2 separate regions of the Homo sapiens genome follow, and region 2 is linked to region 1. Evidence: fine-mapped expression QTL. A gene starts in region 1. The other region holds a variant in brackets. All regions are shown on one strand. Distances are between the middles of the regions.

Region 1 (5,374 bases):
GCTGGGCTGATGGGACATTTTTATACATAGTGCCATGTTACTATAAATGAGAAGTTTTAAAAATACTGATTTTAAAAATTAATTTATGTCAAGAATTTTTATAACCAAAGTTAAAAAACCAAACAAAAAATATGAAAAGGGTTAATATCTTTGAGAGGTGATGAGAACTTATAAGTCAATAAGAGAAAACAAACATCCCTATAAATGAATAAGCTAAGGACATGAATGGGTAATGTACATAAGAAATGTAAATGTCTAGTAATATGCCAAAATAGATTTATTATTACTAATAAGCCACTTTCACTCTCTAGTTGGCAGAGTTGTTTTGAAAAATAGATATGTAATGATGGTGGAAAAGATTGGTTTAACTATTCAGCAGGAAAATTTGGCAATTAGAAGTGTATCAAAAGCCTTAGAATGTTTCATAACCTTAGATTGGGAAATTCCACTTCTAGAAATTAATTCACTTCTAGAAATAATCATGAGTGTGCACAAAGATATTACCACAAAAATATTTTACAGTATTATGTCTAATAGAGAAGAACTAGAAATAATTTAAATTTCCACCAATACAGGTTTGCCAAAATACATTTTGTACATTCACCTAATGGTATATTATGTCCCTATTACAAATTATGTCCTAGAATATTTAATAGCATGGAAAAGTGTTAACAGTATTTTTTTAATGAAAAAAGCTTACAAAACAGTTTGTGATGATTCCATTTAAAATGTGTGTTTATTCATAGAACAAAGATTAGAAAAATAAACATTGATATATTAAAGGGTTATTTCATGGCAAATTGCAAATGATTATTTCCTTTTTTTGTGGCTTATTTGTATTTTTGAAGTTTTCTACAATGTAAAAGAATATTTTATGATATGAAAACTACAATACAATTTATAATATAAGAAAGAATAATTCGGCCGGGAACGGTGGCTCACGCCTGTAATCCCAGCACTTTTGGAGGCCGAGACCGGCGGATCACGAGGTCAGGGGTTCAAGACTAGCCTGGCCAACATAGTGAAACCCCATCTCTACGAAAAATACAAAAATTAGTCAGGCATGGTGGTGCGTGCCTGTAGTCCCAGCTACTCGGGAATTGCTTGAACCCGGGAGGTGGAGGTTGCAGTGAGCCCAGATCGCACCACTGCACTCCAGCTTGAGCAACAGAGTGAGACTTCGTCTCAAAAAAAAAAAAAAAAAAAAAAAAGAATAATTAACAGAAAATGGTTAGACACTTCCTTAGTGTCTCCTAAGTCAGGAGGACCCCAGTAGGGCAGGGATCCTCATGGCCTCCTCCCATTTGGAGCATTATTGGAGGTCTTTTTCGGCCTCTTCGTCAAGTGGAATCTAGCTTCCGGTAAAACTACAAAGTAACCAAAAGTTTGGGAGGTGGAAGAAATGCAACCGGTAGATCTCACAGAGTCTGTGCAAGAAACTGATTCAATGAGAATCTAGTTTCTCCGTCCACAGTTTCTCCAAACAGAAACTAAGGCCGACTTTAGGGGCTTGTCCAAACCTAGGCAAGCAACTTAACAAGGTGAGGCCATGACTCCATGGCCTTTCCGTTCTGTTATATGCTGACTTAGACTAAAGCTCTCATACTTTAAAGTGCACAGAAATCTAGTTAAAATGCAGATTCTGATTCAGGTTAGGGGTGGGCCTGAGAGTCTGCATTTCTAACCAGCTCCCAGGCGATGACCACGCACGGGACAGGTCTGGGATCACAGTTTAACTAGCAATGGTGTAGAACACAGAATCTGCAGCAAGAAGGCCAGCTTCCCAATCCTAGCTCTGCCACGGACCAACTGAATGACAGTTGCCTCGGTTTCCGAGTTTTCGTGAAGATGTAGTGAGTCATTACATCGTGAGGCTTTCGAGCAGCGTTCACTAAGAACTAGCTCTGACATTATTTATCGCATTCCTTAGAGCAAGCAGCCGGTGAAGTAGGGTTTGACGAATGAATAAGTGAATGAATGACCTTTGGAGAAAAATTGTTTCCTGGGTGACTAGAGTCCGAGAAGCAAAATGGGAGGGCCCGTGGGTGGGTAGGAGGCCCACCTCCTAGAAAGTTCTCTGCACCCGGTGGTCCAGAGGGCCTGGAGTGCCCGGAAGCCGGCCGGCTTGCGCTCAGCGGCCCAATGGGGCCGCGGGAGGGAGGGGAGAGCGCTCAGCCAACCCTTTCCGTCCGGGGCGCCGCAGCCCCGCCCCTCGGAGCGTTGCGACGTCCGAGCATTCCACGGTTGCTACATCGTCGCGAGGGGCGGGGCGCCTGTCAGGGAAGCGGCGCGCGCGCGCGGGCGGCGGGCGGGCTGGGGATCCGCCGCGCAGTGCCAGCGCCAGCGCCAGACCCGCGCCCCGCGCTCTCCGGCCCGTCGCCTGCCTTGGGACTCGCGAGCCCGCACTCCCGCCCTGCCTGTTCGCTGCCCGAGTATGGAGCTGCTGTGTTGCGAAGGCACCCGGCACGCGCCCCGGGCCGGGCCGGACCCGCGGCTGCTGGGGGACCAGCGTGTCCTGCAGAGCCTGCTCCGCCTGGAGGAGCGCTACGTACCCCGCGCCTCCTACTTCCAGTGCGTGCAGCGGGAGATCAAGCCGCACATGCGGAAGATGCTGGCTTACTGGATGCTGGAGGTACCGCCCGGACGCGTCCCCCTCCCCCACCGCTCCCGGGTCTGGACACACCGGGGCCGCCCTGTCGGGACATCCCGGTCCCCACAGCAATCTGCAGGATGCTCCGAGGCTAAGACTCCCGGGGCCTGGCCTTTCACTAGGGCACCCACGCCAGCTGCCTCCCTTGCTTTCCCGAGCCCTAATCGGCTCCTCCCGACAGTGACTGCCAGTCACTTGGCACCCTAACTGTGCCTCTCTTCGGGCCGAGCAAACGGGACCAAGGACACTCTCTCCCCTTCGGCTTCTCACAGCGTCTCCCGCTTCCCTCCGCCTCCCGGCCTTCTCCGGAGAGCGCGCCTGGAAAACCCTGGGCTCGGCCGCCCCCGCCCGGGAGCCGGTTCCTGTGTCTTTCGCGGGGTTCTGGCGGGGAAGGCGATGGGGGTGGCGCGCGCCCTGTTCCGGCCGACAGGGAAATGAAAAGTGCAGGAGGCAGCGGCAGGAGCCTCCTCCCTTCCCCTCGGGTGTGTGCAGTGGTGGCGGTGATGGGGGTGAGGTCCCAGCTCTCTGGCTACCATGGGTGACCCTTGCGTCCCACTTCCCCTCGCTGTGGGGGAGGGGAGTCTCCGTTTGGAATCCTCCGTGAGCAAGGGCTCCTTGGCTTTACCACTCCCCCGTCAAGGGGAGAGGGGAGGAGGCCGCGCAGAGGAAGTGGGGGGCGTCACCTTGGGGAGGGCGCATCCTCCTCCTTTATTGGTCCTTGTCTCTCTAAGTAGCTTACCCTCTCTGCCGTTTTTGCTCCCTATCCCACCTCACTTCAGCGCTCCCACCCCCCCGCTGCTGTGTTCCCCACGCTCCAGACCCAGCAGTGACTGTGCGCCCTCCCCCAGGTATGTGAGGAGCAGCGCTGTGAGGAGGAAGTCTTCCCCCTGGCCATGAACTACCTGGATCGCTACCTGTCTTGCGTCCCCACCCGAAAGGCGCAGTTGCAGCTCCTGGGTGCGGTCTGCATGCTGCTGGCCTCCAAGCTGCGCGAGACCACGCCCCTGACCATCGAAAAACTGTGCATCTACACCGACCACGCTGTCTCTCCCCGCCAGTTGCGGGTGCGTGTGTAACTCCCCCCACCCCCGACACGTATTGTCTCCCCACTTTCCAGGAAAAGGAAAGCTTGAGATATCAGAGGCTTTCTGCCCCCTGGAGAGGAAGCAAGGGGATCAGGACCTTTGGGAAAGGAATTGGGGTGGAACAAACGATGGGGCATTGTGGTGTGATGGTTAGTATCACTCCCGCCCAGGCTTGAGCTGCAGGCAGGCATTAAACCCCCTCCTCCTGACCTCCAGGGGATGCCACTCCTTCCTGGTCTTTCCCCCAGATAGCAACAAGTCAAATTGCATGTCTACACTCACTAGTACTTTGCCTCTGGGTTTACGCAGCCACCATGAGTTATTTATTGGCAGCAGAAGGGCATGCCTGCACACCCCCACTGGAGTAGGGGAGTGGAATGTGCTTCATGTGGGGGAGGGGGTTTTGCCTTGGTTGAGTCTTTATCCTCATGTGGACTTTGTGATAGAAAAGCCTCCCAGAGCCAATTAAAGCCAGGCCCTGATTGCTTTAAGGAAGGGCTGATGTATTTCATCCCACCTTCTTTGCTTCCTCTTATATCCCGGAAGAAACAGCTTCTTCCTAATCCTTCCTCGTCCTCATTCTGAGGAACTGGAGCAGCTGCTTTGGGCCTGGTGGAAACAGCTCCCTCTTCCCCCCTTAGCCCAAGGCCCAAGCTGAGGGACAGACAGGGAGGTGAGCTGCATCTGCTTCCGATGTGATAATGGTGCCCCCTCCCCTGGCCCGCCCTCTCTGACCAAGGTCTTTCATAACCCTGTGGGGAGCTGCTGTCACTCCTGTGGTTTGGGAAGTGGCTCCCTGGGCCTCTTGCTGGAAACTTGGGCTGGGCTCAGGCCGGGCAGGAAAGTCACCGGTTCTGTCCCGCCTCAGAAGGAGCCTGGGGAGGAGGCGGGGGAGCTGCTGGATCTGGAAGAGGTTATTTAGGACATGCAGATTGTCTCCTAGGGAGGCTGGGGGAGAGGGTGGGTGAGCTGGCACCTTCCTCCACCTTGCTCTGTGGCGGGCCAAGTCTTCTGCTGACCCTGAGAGGAGTCTCTGGGCCCCATCTCCCAGGGAGGAGGGCAGCAAGCAGGCTGCTGTGATTGGCTGGCAGGGAAGCCAGGGTACTGGGGCCCCCGACTGCTGTGAGTCGAGGAACAGGATTCCTCTTCCTGCCAAGTAGCTCAGAGATGGGAGTAGGAGGCCAGAGTTGGGAATCCAGGAGGCGCCACAGCTCTTTGTGATGAATCTGGTAGTTTTTGGCAAGTCTGAAGGTGGAGCTAGTTTCCAGGGCCAGAGAGCAAGATGTTTTTGGAGGGGTTGGGGCTGGAAGGTAGAAGGGGAACTTCCTTTTTGTGAAAAGATGGAGGTGGTTTGTGTGCCCACGTATGAGGGTTTTTCAGTACAGGCAAAAAGTACTCTTCCCTCTGCCTGAGCTGGGGGTGGAGTGCCCAAAAGACTTCCTAGAAGGTCAAGGTTGGAAGGGACCTCTGAGAACTCCAGTTGGTCCAAATCCGTGTGCAGCAGAGGAGGCTGAGGCCCAAGGAAGGAGGGCAAGGTCCTGCCTCAGCATCGCACTGAGCAGATGAGTGTAGAACCTGGGTCTTCTAGCTAGACCAGGTTGCCTTAAAAGTCAGGAATGTGATGGCCGCTGCCACCTAC
Region 2 (5,374 bases), 110 kb after region 1:
CATGTTGGCCAGGATGGTCTTGATCTCTTGACCTCGTGATCCACCCACCTCGGCCTCCCAAAGTGCTGGGATTACAGGCGTGAGCCACTGCACCCGGCCAGATTTTCCAGTTCTTAAAATAACAGTTGTGTTTACTTCCCAATTCCTTCCATTTTCCATACTTGACTAACCTAGCAAATCTAAATTGCAATTAAATTGGCTTTCATGACTGCATTTCAGAATCTTGTAATGGAAATGTTAATGGCATGAGCATTCGTTTAAGTTGGCTAAAGACTCCTTTGCATGCTAAATGTGCGTTTGTCATCCTTCCATCTCATCCACCCATCCAAAAGTCATTATTAAGTCTTTTCCCCTCTGGGATATACCAAGCAAATATAAGACACAGCACCCAGTGGTAAGCAAGCTGTGTTCTCTAACCTAATGATTGCCCCTTTGATGGTGGGTAGAGACCCAGATTGAAGACTAGTGGTGGTTTGGGCTTAGAGTGATTCATCTCCTTAAGAATCATCAGTCTTCTTTCCTTATTACCATCTCTCCACTTCTACTCTTAACATTATTTTTTTCTTTCCTATTTCTTGAATACAATCATATATTATAAAAACTGAAGATAGGCAGTACTGAGCTGGAACCTTGACTCAGCTATTTTCTATGTGAGTGTTCTTGAGAATACTTACTGTATTAGTCCATTCTCACATTGCTATAAAGAAATACCTGAGACTGGGTAATTTACAAAGAAAAGAGGTTTAATCAGCTCATGATTCTGCAGGAAGCATAGTGGCATCTGCTTCTGGGGAGGCCTCAGGAAACTACAATCATGGCGGAAGGTGAAGGGGAAGCAGGCACATCTTACATGGCTGGAGCAGGAGCAAAATAGAGAATGTTGAGGTGCTACACACTTTTAAACAACTGGATCTCGTGAGAACACACTATCACAAGAACAGCTTCAAGAGGATGGTGCCAAATCATTCATGAGAAATTGCCCCCTTGATCCAGTCACCTCCCACCAGGCCCCACCTCCAACACTGGGGATTACAATTCAACATGAGATTTGGTGGGGACACAGATCCAAACCATATCATTTACCCTCTCTGATATTCAAGATCCTCATATATAAAATCGGGATAATAGTGTCTGGGCATTTTAGGACTAGAGAAGATATGAAAAATACCTGATACTTGATGTTCTTTACTAATTTTTATTGCTGTTATTATTGTATAATCATTGTTTCCATTTTCTCAACAGCATGAGAGACTTTTTAGATAGTGCTCAGTGCTCGATGTTATGATAGAGTGAGGTAAAGTATGGGTATCATAGGAATGGAATTGGTAGTTATTAACTAGAGAATCATAGGTCAGACATCTCAAGGACATCAGAGACCCAAGAATGCCCCATACTGCAGAAGAACTCATGAGAACTTTAAATAGGACAAATTTCCTTTAGTTGCCTACTTTGATTTCTTCCTAGTGATGGGCGTGCATGTTTCAATGTTCTTAGCTATTCAAATATGTGTACAGGTGAAAGCTTTGTTTAAAGTTTTAAACAAAGTGGACCCACTTAATATACTCAACATGTTTTCTAGTTTTGTGCTCACTTTACCAACATTGGAAGTGTTTTGCCAAAAGGGCAGAATTCAGCAACAGCTTCGTAGATAAACTGCCAAGACAGATTTGAAATCACATGCTGAATAGTGTGGACTAGGTTAATAAATAGGGTTTTCCAAATGTACTATCACCCCAAACCTCATCATTTGGCCCTTTCTAGGGTCCAGAAATCTTGCTACTACTTCTTACATTTCAGAAATCTTACACACATGCTGTGATAATCTTGTCCACCTTTGCCTTATTTTAACCTATATTTTTACCCATACCAATAAGAACTACTGAGAGAGAAGGTTTGGTATAGTTATTTTACATGGATTTATTTGCACTATTTGAATTTCAAATTAGAATCACTTTTCTAAAATCTTTCAAAAATTGTTCGAGTATGGAAGAAGTTATTGGAGTAGCGTTTCCTGTCAGTGCTTAAATACTTTATTATTATAATTCTGAAATTATTTCTACTGAGAATTAATGAGAAAACATTTACTGAGAAGCAAAAGAATAAAAGAAATATTTGATTATATTTATTCTTAGTGAGTTTTTTCTAGCTGCTATTGAAGACTATATGAATCTGAACAGTATGAGGAAACTATAGAACTACAGAAATACTGTGTCAAGGCCGGGCGTGGTGGCTCACACCTGTAATCC[C/T]AGCATTTTGGGAGGCCGAGGCGGGCGGATCATGAGGTCAGGAGATCGAGACCATCCTGGCTAACACGGTGAAACCCCATCTCTACTAAAAATACAAAAAATTCGCCGGGCATGGTGGCGGGCACCTGTAGTCCCAGCTACTCGGGAGGCTGAGGCAGGAGAATGGTGTAAACCTGGGAGGTGGAGGTTGCAGTGAGCCGGGGACGCGCCACTGCACTCCAGCCTGGGCAACAATGCGAGACTCTGTCTCAAAAAAAAAAAAAAGAAAAAAGAAAGAAAGAAAAAAAGAAATACTGTGTCAATAGAAATACCAAGTTTTAACAAGCACAAAGCCAAGAAAATCAGTGATGCTAGATACTGAATTTCTATGGCACTGATCTTTGGACACCCAGCAGGAATAAACTACTGAGTGCAGATACCATGGCAATGCAATTAAATTATTCTAGTGTTTTAAGATTTAAGACATCCAATTAGTCAATCATTTTAGTTAGTTGATATTTTTGTAATGTTGCCTAATCTTGTTTTGGCTGATTTCTACACCTAAAGCATAGTGTTTGGTATATTGTAGGCGAGTGCTCAGAAAATTTTTTTTTGACTAATTTCTAGTGATAAAGTGCTTGCCAAAAATACCCTTTCATGGACGCTGGTATCCTTGAACAACCCAGTCCTCATAATAACACCAGGTTTCTAGTTGGAAAAAAACACGTTTAAGTATGTCATATTTTTGGGAGCCATTAAAAATGGCATCCTTACCGTGCTTGTTTTTTCTCTTTGCAAGCAACACACCATGTGTGTGAGCTGTTTATTGAAAGCCAAGTCTTTTTAAACATTTGACTTTTTTGCCTGCACATACCCAATTTTGTTTATACTAGGACTTAGGCATTTGCCAGTACATACATATGTAGCTAGGAAAGCATGATAGTCTTACATAGTGCCCTGTAAAGGAGCTAGAACTGGGAGAGAATAGGTTAAATGAGCTATCATCACAGAATTTCAGAAGATAATTGTCTCTGTTCAGTTAATTTATCAAAGGGAAGCAGCTCCACCTAGAATTACAAATCAAGACTATCAGGTAACATGAGTAAAAGATGCCCAGGAAAGATTTGGGGTCAAGTTCTTAGTTCTTTATATCAAGAGCCTTGTGCAGGGGGTGAATGGTAAAAAAAAAACAGTACAGACTTTGCCTTAAGGAGTTTGGACTATGGTTAGTAAACCAGATAAAACAATTGAGGACTGTGAACAATGAGGTGTTCTTTGAGGGAGAGATTCACTGGGTAGTAGAATGGTCAGGAAAAGCCTTTAAAAAAGGACAGGACCTAAGCTGGCTTTTGAGGGTTAGTACAGAAGAGGAAGGATAGCATCTCAAGGAATTGACTGTTCTTGGGACGTCTGAAGAAATAGTGAGTAGACCAGTCCATCTGGTTGTTTGGACACAAAGAAAGGGTGGGAGATAATATGAGAAGCTTGTTTGGGGTCAGATTGTATGTGATACTTTTGAAGGTCTGTCTGAGGAACTTGGACTTTATCATACAGACAGCCCATTAAAAGCGGAGGTTATGGGTTGTTGTGGTGGTGGTTTTAATTTTAGTTTGGAGTAATGTTTAATGTGCAGTATGGATTTAGAAGCTCAAGAGAGTTAGTGGTGAAGAAAAATGATTAGTTTATTTCAAAAATGGTAGCTCTACTTTTTTTTTTTTTTTTTTTGAGATGGAGTTTTGCTCTTGTTGCCCAAGCTGGAGTGCAATGTTACGGTCTCGGCTCACTGCAACCTCTGCCTCCTGGGTTCAAGCAATTCTCCTGCTTCAGACTCCCGAGTAGCTGGGATTACAGGTGCGCACCACCACGCCCAGCTAATTTTTTGTATTTTTATTTATTTTTATTTTTATTTCTGTTTTGAGATGGAGTCTCGCTCTGTTGCCCAGGCTGGAGTGCAGCGGCACAATCTCGGCTCACTGCAACCTCCACCCCCTGGGTTCAAGCGATTCTCCTGCCTCAGCCTCCTGAGTAGCTGGGGTTACAGGTGCATGCCACCACGCCCGGCTAATTTTTGTATTTTTAGTAGAGACGGGGTTTCACCATGTTGGTTAGGCTGGTCTTAAACTCCTGACTTCGTGATCTGCCCGCCTCAGCCTCCCAAAGTGCTGGTATTACAGGCGTGAGCCACTGCGCCTGGCAATTTTTTGTATTTTTAGTAGAAACGGGGTTTCACCATGTTAGCCAGGCTGGTCTTGAACTCCTGACCTCAGGTGATCTGCCCACCTCTGCCTCCCAAAGTGCTGGGATTACAGGCATGAGTCACCAATCCCAGTCGATAGCTCTACCTTTTATAGTGACAATGCAGGTTATCTTGTGTGGAGGTTCCTATCAATCAGCCTGTACAGGTAGCACCAGTGTATAACAATCTCTTGGCCAGTCAGCACTGGTGCTTCGTGCTGCTTTCCTAAATTTTTTTTTTTTCTCTTGAGACGGAGTCTTGCTCTGTTGCCCAGGCTGGAGTGCAGTGGTGCGATCTTGGCTCACTGCAACCGCCACCTCCCAGGTTCAAGTGATTCTCTTGCTTCAGCCTCCTGAGTGGGATTACAGGTATGCACCACCATGCCCAGCTAATTTTTGTATTTTTAGTACAGATGGGGTTTCACCATGTTGGCCAGGCTGGTCTCGAACTGGTTAACCTCAGGTGATCCACTGGCTTGGCCTTCCAAAGTACTGAGATTACAGGTGTGAGCCACCACGCCTGGCCTGCTTTCCTAAATTTGAATTGGTTGCAAATCTGTTTTGTTTGCTCCATCATTGTCTGTCATTAACATACTATTTATTTATTTTCAAAAGTATAAACTTATATGGAATTTCTGTAGGGGTTAAAGTAGACACTAGGTTACCAAGGCATAATTTCCCAAGACTTGGAGACCTGTGATCACTGGGAGGATTTTTGGATCTTCATCTGAACTTAGCTATATTAAACATTGAAACAATCCTACAAAATGCCTAGATGAGACAGGTTTACAGGTAAGTTTTATCAGACCTTCATGGAACAGATAAACCATAGAAGAATTAAACTGTTTTAGAGAAGAGATAAAGTGGGAAAGCTGCTATCTCAGGTTTTGAGGTTAGTATAATCTTGGTACAAA

What was found. PIP is the estimated chance that this variant, and not a neighbour inherited with it, causes the effect. A credible set is the group of variants that fine-mapping cannot tell apart.
Region 2: its variant is the best candidate, but not a certain one, in a credible set for the expression of CCND3 in whole blood (INTERVAL, PIP 0.77).

The regions. Positions count from the first base shown.
Region 1 is chr6:41,938,710-41,944,083 of GRCh38, reverse strand. CCND3 (cyclin D3) reads left to right here and starts at 2,276. Exons shown (of 5, transcript NM_001760.5): 1 at 2,276-2,632; 2 at 3,499-3,714. The coding sequence starts at 2,435. RefSeq lists a silencer at 2,128-2,577 and enhancers at 2,094-3,045, 3,088-3,217, 4,299-4,593, 4,174-4,989, 4,990-5,374.
Region 2 is chr6:41,830,157-41,835,530 of GRCh38, reverse strand. All of the region lies in intron 3 of USP49 (ubiquitin specific peptidase 49), which reads left to right. LOC124900222 (small nucleolar RNA SNORA8) reads right to left here and starts at 2,677; the gene lies at 2,538-2,677. The variant C/T (reference allele first, on the strand shown) is at 2,247.